Regions from separate parts of the Homo sapiens genome. Here region 2 is linked to region 1. The links come from fine-mapping of genetic effects on plasma protein levels. Region 1 holds a variant in brackets. A gene starts in the other region. All regions are shown on their forward strands.

Region 1 (5,374 bases):
GTCCTGGAGGGAATCTGGGTGGCTAATCACGCAACCACTAGATTAGGTACAGATGCAGGCTGGTCCGAGACAGGATTCTCTTGCGACTGCTCCAGACGTTTCTGTTAGTAGAAAGCCAGATCACCCGATGGGCGGGGAGAGGCGCGTGCACTGTTTAACGTGGTCTAACTCAGACCAAGGGTGGGGGAACCCCCGCCCGAGGAGGAATCTGTTTTTAAGCTGAGATTAAATCAAGTGCGACCCCTGATTAAACTCAGCCTTTTGCTTAACTGTACTTGTCAATATAACACATAATTGGAAGCTTTTAAGCATATTTGGGACAATTTGGGTGTGAGTCTACCTTTTCAACTGTAAGTTTTACAAGATGTAAATGCAGATCGAGTATTTCTCATGAAAATGTAGCATCCAGGTGGAGATGTGATGGAAGTGCAAATTACACACTAGGTTTGAAAGAGTGTAAGAGTGTAAAATATATCATTAATAATTTTAAAATACTGATTACATGTTGAAATATGTAGATATATTGGGTTAAATAAAATATATTATTAAAATTCTTTTTTCTTTTTTTTTTTTTTTTGAGACGGAGTCTTGCTCTGTCGCCCAGGCTGGAGTGCAGTGGCGAGATCTCAGCTCACTGTAAGCTCCGCCTCCCGGGTTCATGCTATTCTCCTGCCTCCGCCTCCTGAGTAGCTGGGACTACAGGTGCCCGCCACCACACCCGGCTAATTGTTTTGTATTTTTAGTAGAGACGGGGTTTCATCGTGGTTTCATCGTGTTAGCCAGGATGGTCTCATCTCCTGACCTCGTGATCCGCCTGTCTCGGCCCCCTAAAGTGCTGGGATTACAGGCGTGAGCCACCGCGCCAGTCCCTCTTTTTTTTTTTTTTTTTTTTAAGAGACAGGGTCTCACCACCACACCCAGCTAATTTTTGCATTTTTTTTTTGTAGAGAAGAGGGTCTCACTATGTTGCCCAGACTGGTCTCGAACTCCTGGGCTCAAGCGATCCGCCCGCCTCAGCCTCCCAAAGGTGCTGGGATTACAGGCGTGAGCCACCGTGCCCGGCCTCTTTTTACTTTTTCAGTAGGGCTACCAGAAAATTTAAAATCATCCATTTGGCTCGCCTTGTATTTCTTTTGTATTTCTTTGAAACAACGCTGGGTTAGGAACAGTAAGGCATAGCTATATGCAGTTTTCATATTGGCCACCAGGTGGCAGCCTTATACCGGGTGGTTTTCAGACTCTTGGGAGGCCGGTGGGTGGAGCGGGGGACAGACGCAGATTTCACCAGCAAGTGAAAAAGTCCCTTAGCCAGGTTTGTGCTTGCTATTCCATTTTTATATTACTTACGCCTCACATTTATTTGTATGTAGATGGTTGTTGACATAATAAAATACATGTAATTTCCTCTGTGTTTAAGAGCAGTTCTCCCTCACTGAGCTGGGAGTTTCCTTAAGAAACCTGGCTCTTAATTATATAGAGAGAGACTGGGCGCGGTGGCTCTAATTATATATAGAGACACCCAGCGCGGTGGCTCACACCTGTAATCCCAGCACTTTGGGAGGCCGAGGTGGGTGGATCGCCTGAGGTCAGGAGTTCGAGACCAGCTTGACCAACATGGTGAAATACATGTCTCCACTAAAAATACAAAAATTAGCTGGGCATGGTGGCATGCACCTGTAATCCCAGCAACTCAGGAGGCTGAGGCAGGAGAATTGCTTGAACCTGGGAGGAAGAGGTTGCAGTGAGCTGAGATTGCACCACTGCACTCCAGCCTGGGCAACAGAGTAAGACTCCATCTCAAAAAAAGAAAAAAAAATACACACACACACACACAGAGAAAGACAGGGTGACAGGGTCTTGCTCTGTCACCCATGCTGCAGTGCAGTGGTGTGATCATAGCTCACTGCAGCCTCGAACTCCTGGGCTCAAGTGATCCTCATGCCCCAGCCTCCTGAGCAGCACATTACAGGTGCCACCCGCTGCACCCAGCTACTTTTTCTTTTTTTTAAAGGAGTCTCACTATGTTGCCCAGGCTAGTCTCAAACTCCTGGCCTCAAACAATCCACCCGCCTCTGCTTTTTTTTTTTTTTTTGAGACAGTCTCACTCTGTTGCCCAGGCAAGAGTGCAGTGGCACCATCTTGGCTCATTGCAACCTCTTGCCTCCTGGGTTCAAGCAATTCTTGTGCCTCTGCCTCCTGCGTAGCTGGGATTACAGGCATGTGCCACCACGCCTGGCTAATTTTTGTATTTTTGGTAGAGATGGGGGTTTCACCATGTTGGCCAGGCTGGACTCGAACTCCTGACCTCAGATGATCCGCCTGCCTCTGCCTCCCAAAGTGCTGGGATTACAGGTGTGAGCCCCTGCGCCCGGCCGGCTTGATACTATTTTTAATAGTCGACTTTGGATCCCACTCCTGTGCCCAAGCTCTCTCTCATTTTGCTTTTCCCCTCTTCACACATCCATTCTCCAAGTTAATTTCTCTTCATGTCCTTATAATTAAATTCCATCTATAACCTTAATTCCAACCTATTAGACGCATCATCAGAACGGCTGACAGTGCACGGGCAGAGAAAGGTATTAGGAAAGCCAGTGAAGTAGAAAATGCAGGAGGGAGCCCATTCCATTCCTGCCAAGATGCCGGGTTAGTGTGGAATGTTGGCTGCCCCCCAGGA[C/A]CAGCCATGATAGATTTTTTTTAGATGGAGTCTCACTCTGTCACCAGGCTGGAGTGCAGTGGCAAGATCTCGCCTCACTGCAACCTCTGCCTCCTGGGTTCAAGCGATTCTCCTGCCTCAGCCTCCTGAGTAGCTGGGACTACAGACACCCACTACCACACCTGGCTAATTTTTGTATTTTAATAGCAATGGGGTTTCACCATGTTGGCCAGGATGGTCTCAATTTCCTGACCTCATGATCTGCCCTCCTCGGCCCCCAAAAGTGCTAGGATTACAGGCGTAAGCCACCATTCCCAGCCCATGATGGATCTTTAGAGGGAAACATCAAGAGACAGGAAGACCTGGGAGAAGAAGCAAAGATCGGAACCTGTGGTTACGTGGGGAGGCTAGAGCTGTGGCCCAAGGCAGAAGGCTGTGAACTCGGCTGTGCAAGGAAAAAACAGGAAGTGAGCACCAGGGTTCTGCTCTGCTTCCGACCCAGCTCCAGGGCTTTGGGGCAATGGGTGCCTGCCCCTGGCCTGCAGGTGCCCTCAGGATAAAGTGGGTCATGCCGAGGCACTGTACAGGGGAGGAAATGAAAAAGACTTAGAACTATAAAGTGTGTATCAAATTGCAATAAAAAAGGCCAGGTGTGGTGGCTCACACCTGTAATCTCAGCACTTTAGGAAGCCGAGGTAGGTGGATCAGTTGAGGTCAGGAGTTTGAGACCAGCCTGGCCAACATGGTGAAACCCTGTTCTTACTAAAAATACAAAAATTAGCCAGGCATGGTGGTGGACACCTGTAATCCCAGCTATTTGGGAGGCTGAGGAGGGAGAATCACTTGAACTCAGGAGAGGTTGCAGTGAGCAGAAATCATGCCACTGCATTCTAGTCTGAGCATAAGAGCAAGACTCCATCTCAAAAAAAAAAAAAAAAAAAATACAATGAAAGCAGTGTTTGGAGGAAAGCTTGCCTCCTGAAATACTTTTATGAGAAAAGAACACACTGAAAATTACTGAGCTGAGTATCTAAATTTGTGATGTTAAAAAATCACAAATGGATACATACAGATTAGGAAGCCAGCATTACCCTGATACAAAAGCCAGATAAAAACATCAGAAGAAAATTACCAACCAGTATCTCTCATGAATATAGATGCAAAAACCTTCAATAAAGTACTAGCAAACTGAACCCGACAGCATATTAAAAGGATTATACACCATGATGAAGTGGGAGTTATCCCAGCATGCCAAGCGCTATAGGAAATAACAAGAAAATCCATCAGCGTAATATGCATTAATTGAATGAAAGGGGAAAATCACGTGATCACTTAAATTGATGCAGAAAAGGCCTTTGACAAGATCCAACACCCTTCATGATAAAAAGCACTCAGAGGCTGGGCGCGGTGGCTCACGCCTAATCCCAGCACTTGAGGACGCCGAGGCGGGTGGATCACCTGAGGTCAGGAGTTTGAGACCAACCTGACCAACATGGTGAAACCTCCTCTCTACTAAAAATACAAAAAATAGCTGGGTGTGGGGGCTCACGCCTACAATGCCAGCTACTGAAGAGGCTAAAGCAGGAGAATCTCTTGAACCCAGGAGGTGGAGGTTGCAGTGAGCCGAGAAAGCGCCATTGCACTCCAGCCTGGGCAACAAGAGCAAAACTCCATCTCAAAAAAAAAATAATAAAATAAGTTAGCCGGGCATGGTAGCATAGGCCTGTACTCCAAGCTACCTGGGAGGCCGAGACACGAGACTCACTTGAACCTGAGAGATGGATGTTACAGTGAGCTGAGAGCGAACCTCTGCACTCCTGCCTGGGCAAGAAAGCAAGACTCTAAAAAAGACTGTCTAAGAACCCCATGCAGGCTGAGTCAAGGAAACTAAGAAACTAAGCATCTTGGTAAACCAACGAAAATCAAAGGTAAAATCTTAAAAGCATCCAAAGAAAATCCATTAAACCTTTTTAAAAAGCAACAGTAAATCACTGACTTCTCCACGAATCAACAGAAGCCAGGAGACACTGAAACACCTTCCAAGTCCAAATATCCATGTACATACCCACATGCACGTCTCAACAAAAATTATTTTTCAGAGTGACAGGCAACTTTTACAAGATCAAAATGAATAAATATCTTTTCAGACAGTGGAACAACAGGAGAATTTTCTCCAACAAAATTTTCACTGCATTAAAGGAAAGACTAAAAGTTTCCAGAGAGAGAGAGACCGCCAATCCGGACACATCCTGGGAAAGGAACCGGCCCCCTCCATGGCCTGGCCGAAGTGATGGAAGCTGAGCGTGAGGAAGCCTCAAGATCTAACTGCAGAGGCCGAGCGCGGTGGCTCATGCCTATGATCCCAGCACTTTCGGAGGCCGAGGCAGGCAGATCACCTGAGGTCAGGAATTTGAGACCAGTCTGAACAACATAGTGAAACCCCATCTCTACTGAAAATACAACAATTAGCCGGGCGTGGTAGTGAGTGCCTATAATCCCAGTTACTTGAGAGGCTGAGGCAGAAGAATGGCTTGAACCCAGGAGGCAGAGGTTGCCGTGAGCCAAGATGTCACTGCACTCCAGCCTAGGCAGCAGAACAAGACTCTGTCTCAAAAAAAAAAAAAAAAAAAAAAAAAAAAGTCTAACTGCAGGGTCACAGAAAATGCAGAGAGGGAGGCGGGGAAGAGTGTGGGAGCTGAGAGGACAGTGGCGCCAGCTCCC
Region 2 (5,374 bases), not on the chromosome of region 1:
ATAGCAGTTGTCATGTGTCTGGCAGCACCTGGAAAGTGGGAGGGACAGCTGAGATAGGAGTAAGTGCAGAGCAATAGGTCAGCCCTCACCTGCCCACTCTCAGGAACAGGTGGGGATGACTTCGCCAAGATGCTTCAGGAGAAATGATCCTATGGCTTGAAAAAATATAAGTCCTTTTATCATATATTTATTGAAAGCATTTTTTTTTTTTGAGACAGAGTTGCTCTGTTACCCAGGCTGGACAGCAGTGACACGACCTTGGCTCACTGAAACCTCCAACTCAGTCTCCCAAGTAGCTGGGGTTACAGGCGCTCGCCACCATGTCCGGCTAATTTTTGTATTTTTTAGTAGAGACAGGGTTTCACCATGTTGGCCAGGCTGGTCTCGAACTCCTGACCTCAAGTGATCCGCCCGCCTCGGCCTCCCAAAGTGCTGGGATTACAGGCATGAGCCACCGCGCCTGGCCTGAAAGCGATTTTTAACATGGTTGCAAGAATACAGTAAAATCCTGTATTCAGAAGGTGCAGTGACAACCACTGCTAGAAAATGACACGTGGATAGTTGCTGTGATGTTTACTGTTGCTACATTCTGCCACTGGAGGGCAGCATCGCCCACTGTTTTGCACGTCGGTCATTGTTTCCATCTCTAACGGGGTGCGTTCGCTACAGGGTCCTCTTGGAACATATTTGTTTATTTGACAAGAGGTGAAAATATGTTATCCTTAGCAGATATGCAAGTCCCCTTTGTATGCCTCGTGAGATCCTTGGCGTGTGCCCCACCCCGCCCCCGGCAGGCACTCCAATTTTCCTGCAGGCGGATCACTTACTTGTCCAGTTCATCCACGGGGGTGCCTGAGCCCCCCAAGCCACAGTAGCAGCCGTAGTTGTTGTATTCCAAGAAGGGGTCACTCCCCGGGATCACGCACTTGATCATTTTGCGGAACTGCCACACGGCCCGAGGGCTGATGCCGCTGTCGGCGGCGGCCACTGCAAGAAGACATAGCCAGAGTTCAAATCGGTCTGCCAGCACCCCGGGGACACACTGCCTTCCTGCTCCCTCGGGTCCCACGCTGCCTCCCTGACCCCTGCCAGCTGCCTCCTCTGAAGACCGTTGGACCCAGGAACCTGGTAAAGTGAAAGTGGGTAGAGGTTTTTTTTTTTTTTTAATGAAAACTTTATATATATAAAGTTTATATCTTTGTGTGTGTGTATATATATATATATCTTCTTCTTTTTCTTCTTCTTCTTCTTCTGGGACCCTACCGCCTCAGCTAGGATTACAGGCATGTGCCACCCAGCTAGGCCTGATAGTTTTTTTTTTTTTTTTGAGATGGAGTCTTGCTCTGTTGCCCAGGTTGGAGTGCAGTGACACGATTTCAGCTCACTGCAAACTCTGCTTCCCGGGTTCACGCCATTCTCCTGCCTCAGCCTCCCTAGGTCAGATAGTTTTAAACTATCTGCACTGTTTATCCAGTGAATATTTATTGAGCACTTACTATGTGCCAGGCTCTGTCCTAGGAGCTAGAGATACAGCAGTGAACAGATATAATAATAATAATAATAATAATAATAATAATAATAATAATAATAATCTCTAACCTCATGGAGCTTACAACCTAGTGGGAGAGAAAAACAATAAATAATAAATGTGATAAGGCCGGGCACGGTGGCTCATGCCTGTAATCCCAGCACTTTGGGAGGCCGAGGCAGGCGGATCACAAGGTCATGAGATCGAGACCATCCTGGCTAACACGATGAAACCCCGTCTTTATTAAAAATACAAAAAAATTAGCGGGGCGTGGTGGCAGGCGCCTTTAGTCCCAGCTACTGGGGAGGCTGAGGCGGGAGAATGGCGTGAACCCAGCAGGTGGAGCTTGCAGTGAGCCGAGATCGCACCACTGTACTCCAGCCTTGGCGACAAAGCAAGACTCTGTCTCAATAATAATAAGAATAATAATAAATGTGATAAGTAAGGAAACTGGATACTGCATTAGAAAGGGGAAGAATAGAGCAGGATGAGGAGAATCTAAAAGGGAGGTCACCCAGCCTGGCCAACATGGTGAAAACCTGTCTCTACCAAAAAAAACACACAAAAAATTAGCTGGGCATGGTGGTGTGTGCCAGCTACTTGAGAGCTACAAGTCCCAGCTACTTGAGAGGCTGAGGCAAGAGAATTATTTGAACCCAGGAGATGGAGGTTGTAGTGATCTGAGATCACGCCACCGCACTCCAGCCTGGGCGACAGAGTGAGCCCCGTCTCAAAAATAAAATAAAGTAAAATAAAAATAAAAATTAAAATAAAATAAAATAAATGGGAGATTGGCCTAACTACTTAGTTGAGTAAGGTGGGAGGATCACTTGAGCCCACGAGTTGGAAGCTGTGGTGAGCTATGATCATGCCACTGAACTCCAGCCTGGGTGATAGAGCAAGACCCTGTCTGGAAAAAAGAAAATAAAGGCAAGCTTTCTTAGCTCAGGCAATCTGAGTTCAGACTTGCAGGTTGAAAAAGTGCCAGCCTTGAGGGAACCCCAATAGAGGAGCCCTTAAGCCCCACTGGGAACCTCGAATTGAGACTGCGGGGCTGGCCATCCCTGTTTGCTGTGGCCTGTGGCCCCCATTCCAGAGGAGTGAGATCTTAGCTCACTTGGGAGAGAAAGGCGGGTGGAGCCGGGGAGACTTGCCTACCTGTGAGCAGCACAGCTAGCACAAGGAGTTTCATCTTGCAGTCAAGGTGAGAAAAGAACTGAGATGACCAGTCTCAGGTATAGTCTTATAGTCAGTCTCCACACAACCCTGCCCAGATAAGGCTGGAGTGTTTGCTTTGCTCTTGGCTGAGTTTGGGGCTGGCCTTGAATCTGTCTGTTGCAGGAATGACCCTGACGATTTGCCAGCATGGGATCACTGGAAAATATGTTATGCATTTGTCCTTAGCAACTGTTAACCAAAGGGATGGTTTCTGGAGTTTTCAGATCTTACAATCTTGACCCTCATACCCACCACTTTGTACTCAGCCCAGCTTCACGGGCTGGTTGGGGAAAGCAAAGCCGTCAGTTCAGTCGGACGCTGGGATAAGGGAGACAAGAAGGAAGTGCAGCCTGGGCAACATAGAGAGACCTCATCTCTAAAAAAAAAAATGTTAACCAGGTGTGGTGGTGGATTGCACCTGTGATCCCAGCAACTCAGGAGGCTGAGATGGGAGGATCTCTTGAGCCAGGGAGGTCAAGGCTGCAATGAACAGTGATTGAGCCTCTGCAGCAGAGTGAGACCCTATTTCAAAAAAAAAAAAAAAAAAAGAAAGAAAGAAAAAAGATCGCTGCCTGCAGCCTCAATGTCTTATCAAGTGCCTGAATCTGTGCACTGGGTCTGGTTGAATAGTCCCATCAGTCGTGCACCTTGCAGATAAAGAGACAGGTTCAGAGAGTTGCGGTAACTTGCCCAAGGTCACACAGTTGGCAAATGACAAAATAGGGCTCCAGTTTAGATCTGTCTGATTCCAAGGCAGAGGTTTTATTTTTTTCCACCACTCCGCTCTGCAGTGTGGGTTTGTGAGAAAAACCTGGGCTTTGGATTCCAAAGGCCTGAGTCTGAATTATAGAATACTAAAGGGCATTAGAACTGTCATATCAGAGGCCAGGCACGGTGGCTCATGCCTGTAATCCCAGCACTTTGGGAGGCTGAGGCTGGCAGATCACCTGAGGTGGAGAGTTCGAGACCAGCCTGACCAACATGGAATAACCCTGTCTCTACTAAAAACACAAAATTAGCCAGGCATGGTGGCTTATGCCTGTAATCCCAGCTACTCCGGAGGCCGAGGCAGGAGAATGGCTTGAACCCTGGAGGCGGAGGTTGCGGTGAGCTGAGATCACGCCATTGCACTCCAGCCTAGGGAACAAGAGCAAAACTCCATCTCAAAAAAAAACCTGTCACATCACATATCTATTTATTTATATATATTTTTTGAGACGGAGTCTTGCTCTGTTGCCTAGGCTGGAGTGCAATGGCGCGATCTTGGCTCACTGCAAGCTCTGCCTCCCAGGTTCATGCCATTCTCCTGCCTCAGCCTCCCAAGTAGCTGGGACTACAGGCACCCACCACCACGCCCGGTTAATTTTTTTTTTTGTATTTTTAGTAGAGATGGGGTTTCACCGCATTAGCCAGGATGGTCTCGATCTCCTGACCTCGTGATCCACCTGCCTCGGCCTCCCAAAATGCTGGGATTACAGGCGTGAGCCACCGCGCCCGGCCAAATATCTACATAACATTGTTTAGCTGAAATTCACATAACATTAACCACGTTTAAGTAAACAATTCGGGGGCATTTAGTACCTTCACAGTGTTGTGCAACCATCACCTCTATGGGGTTCCAGAACATTTTTATCACTCCAGAAGGAAACCCTGTACCCATTAGCAGTCACACTCCCTCAGCCCCTGGTAACTGCTAATCTGCTTCTCTCTCTCTCTCTCTTTTTTTTTTGAGACAGAGTTTCGCTCTTGTCGCCCAGGCTGGAGTGCAATGGCACGATCTCGGCTTACTGCAACCTCCGCCTCCCAGGTTCAAGCGATTCTCCTGCCTCAGCCTCTCGTGTAGCTGGGAATTACAGGCGCCTGCCAGCATGCCTGGATAATTTTTGTATTTTTAGTAGAGACAAGGTTTCACCATGTTGGTCAGGCTGGTCTCAAACTCTTGACCTCAGGTGATCCACTCCTCAGCCTCCCAAAATGCTGGGATTATAGGCATGAGCCACTGTGCCTGGCCTCTGATCTGCTTCTCTCTATATAGATTTATAATTGGTTAACTTGGTGCTCTTCTGTTCCTATGTCACCTCTACAACAACCCTGTGGGATAAGGAGGGCCTGGTTATTTAATTTATTTATCTGTTTTTTTTTTTTGAGACAAAGTGTCGCTCTGTTTCCCAGACTGATGTGCAGTGACACGATCATAGTTCACTGCAGCCTCAACCTCCTGGGCTCAAGCAATCCTCCCACCTTAGCCTCCCGATTAGTGGGGACTACAGACATGTGTCACCACACCTGGCTAATTTAAAAAAATTTTTTGGGCCAGGCACGGTGGCTCATACCTGTAATCCCAGCACTTGGGGAGACCGAGGCAGGCGGATCACGAGGTCAGGTGATGGAGACCATCCTGGCTAACACAGTGAAACCTTGTCTCTACTAAAGATACAAAAAATAAGCTGGGCATGGTGGCGGGTGCCTGTAATCTCAGCAACTTGGGAGGCTGAGGCAGAAGAATGGCGTGAACCCAGGAGGCAGAGTTTGCAGTGAGCCGAGATCACGCCACTGTACTCCGGCCTGGGCGACACAGCGAGACTCTGTCTCAAAAAAATTTTTGGAGACACGGCGTCTCCCTATGTT

Which allele goes with the higher level. Alleles are on the strand shown, and positions count from the first base shown. The strength of an association depends on the size of the effect and on how common the allele is.
For the plasma level of the protein whose gene starts at base 2,746 in region 2, A is the low allele of the variant in region 1 and C is the other (moderate association).

Evidence for each region. A credible set is the group of variants that fine-mapping cannot tell apart. PIP is the posterior inclusion probability: the model's chance that the variant is causal. The UK Biobank Pharma Proteomics Project read protein levels with antibody pairs (Olink). The fine-mapping took linkage between variants from a reference panel, not from the people measured, so its PIPs are less certain.
Region 2: PLA2G1B starts here. The variant in region 1 is the best candidate, but not a certain one, in a credible set for the plasma level of the PLA2G1B protein (UK Biobank, PIP 0.87).

What each region holds. Positions count from the first base shown.
Region 1 is chr16:75,198,300-75,203,673 of GRCh38, forward strand. No RefSeq gene overlaps it. Among named protein-coding and RNA genes, the nearest start is that of CTRB2, 6.2 kb to the right of the region's middle. RefSeq lists enhancers at 1-13, 1,052-1,346, 3,198-3,277. The variant C/A (reference allele first, on the strand shown) is at 2,675.
Region 2 is chr12:120,325,034-120,330,407 of GRCh38, forward strand. It overlaps PLA2G1B (phospholipase A2 group IB), which reads right to left and starts at 2,746. Exons shown (of 4, transcript NM_000928.3): 1 at 2,687-2,746; 2 at 828-987; 3 at 1-28. The coding sequence starts at 2,720. RefSeq lists an enhancer at 643-702.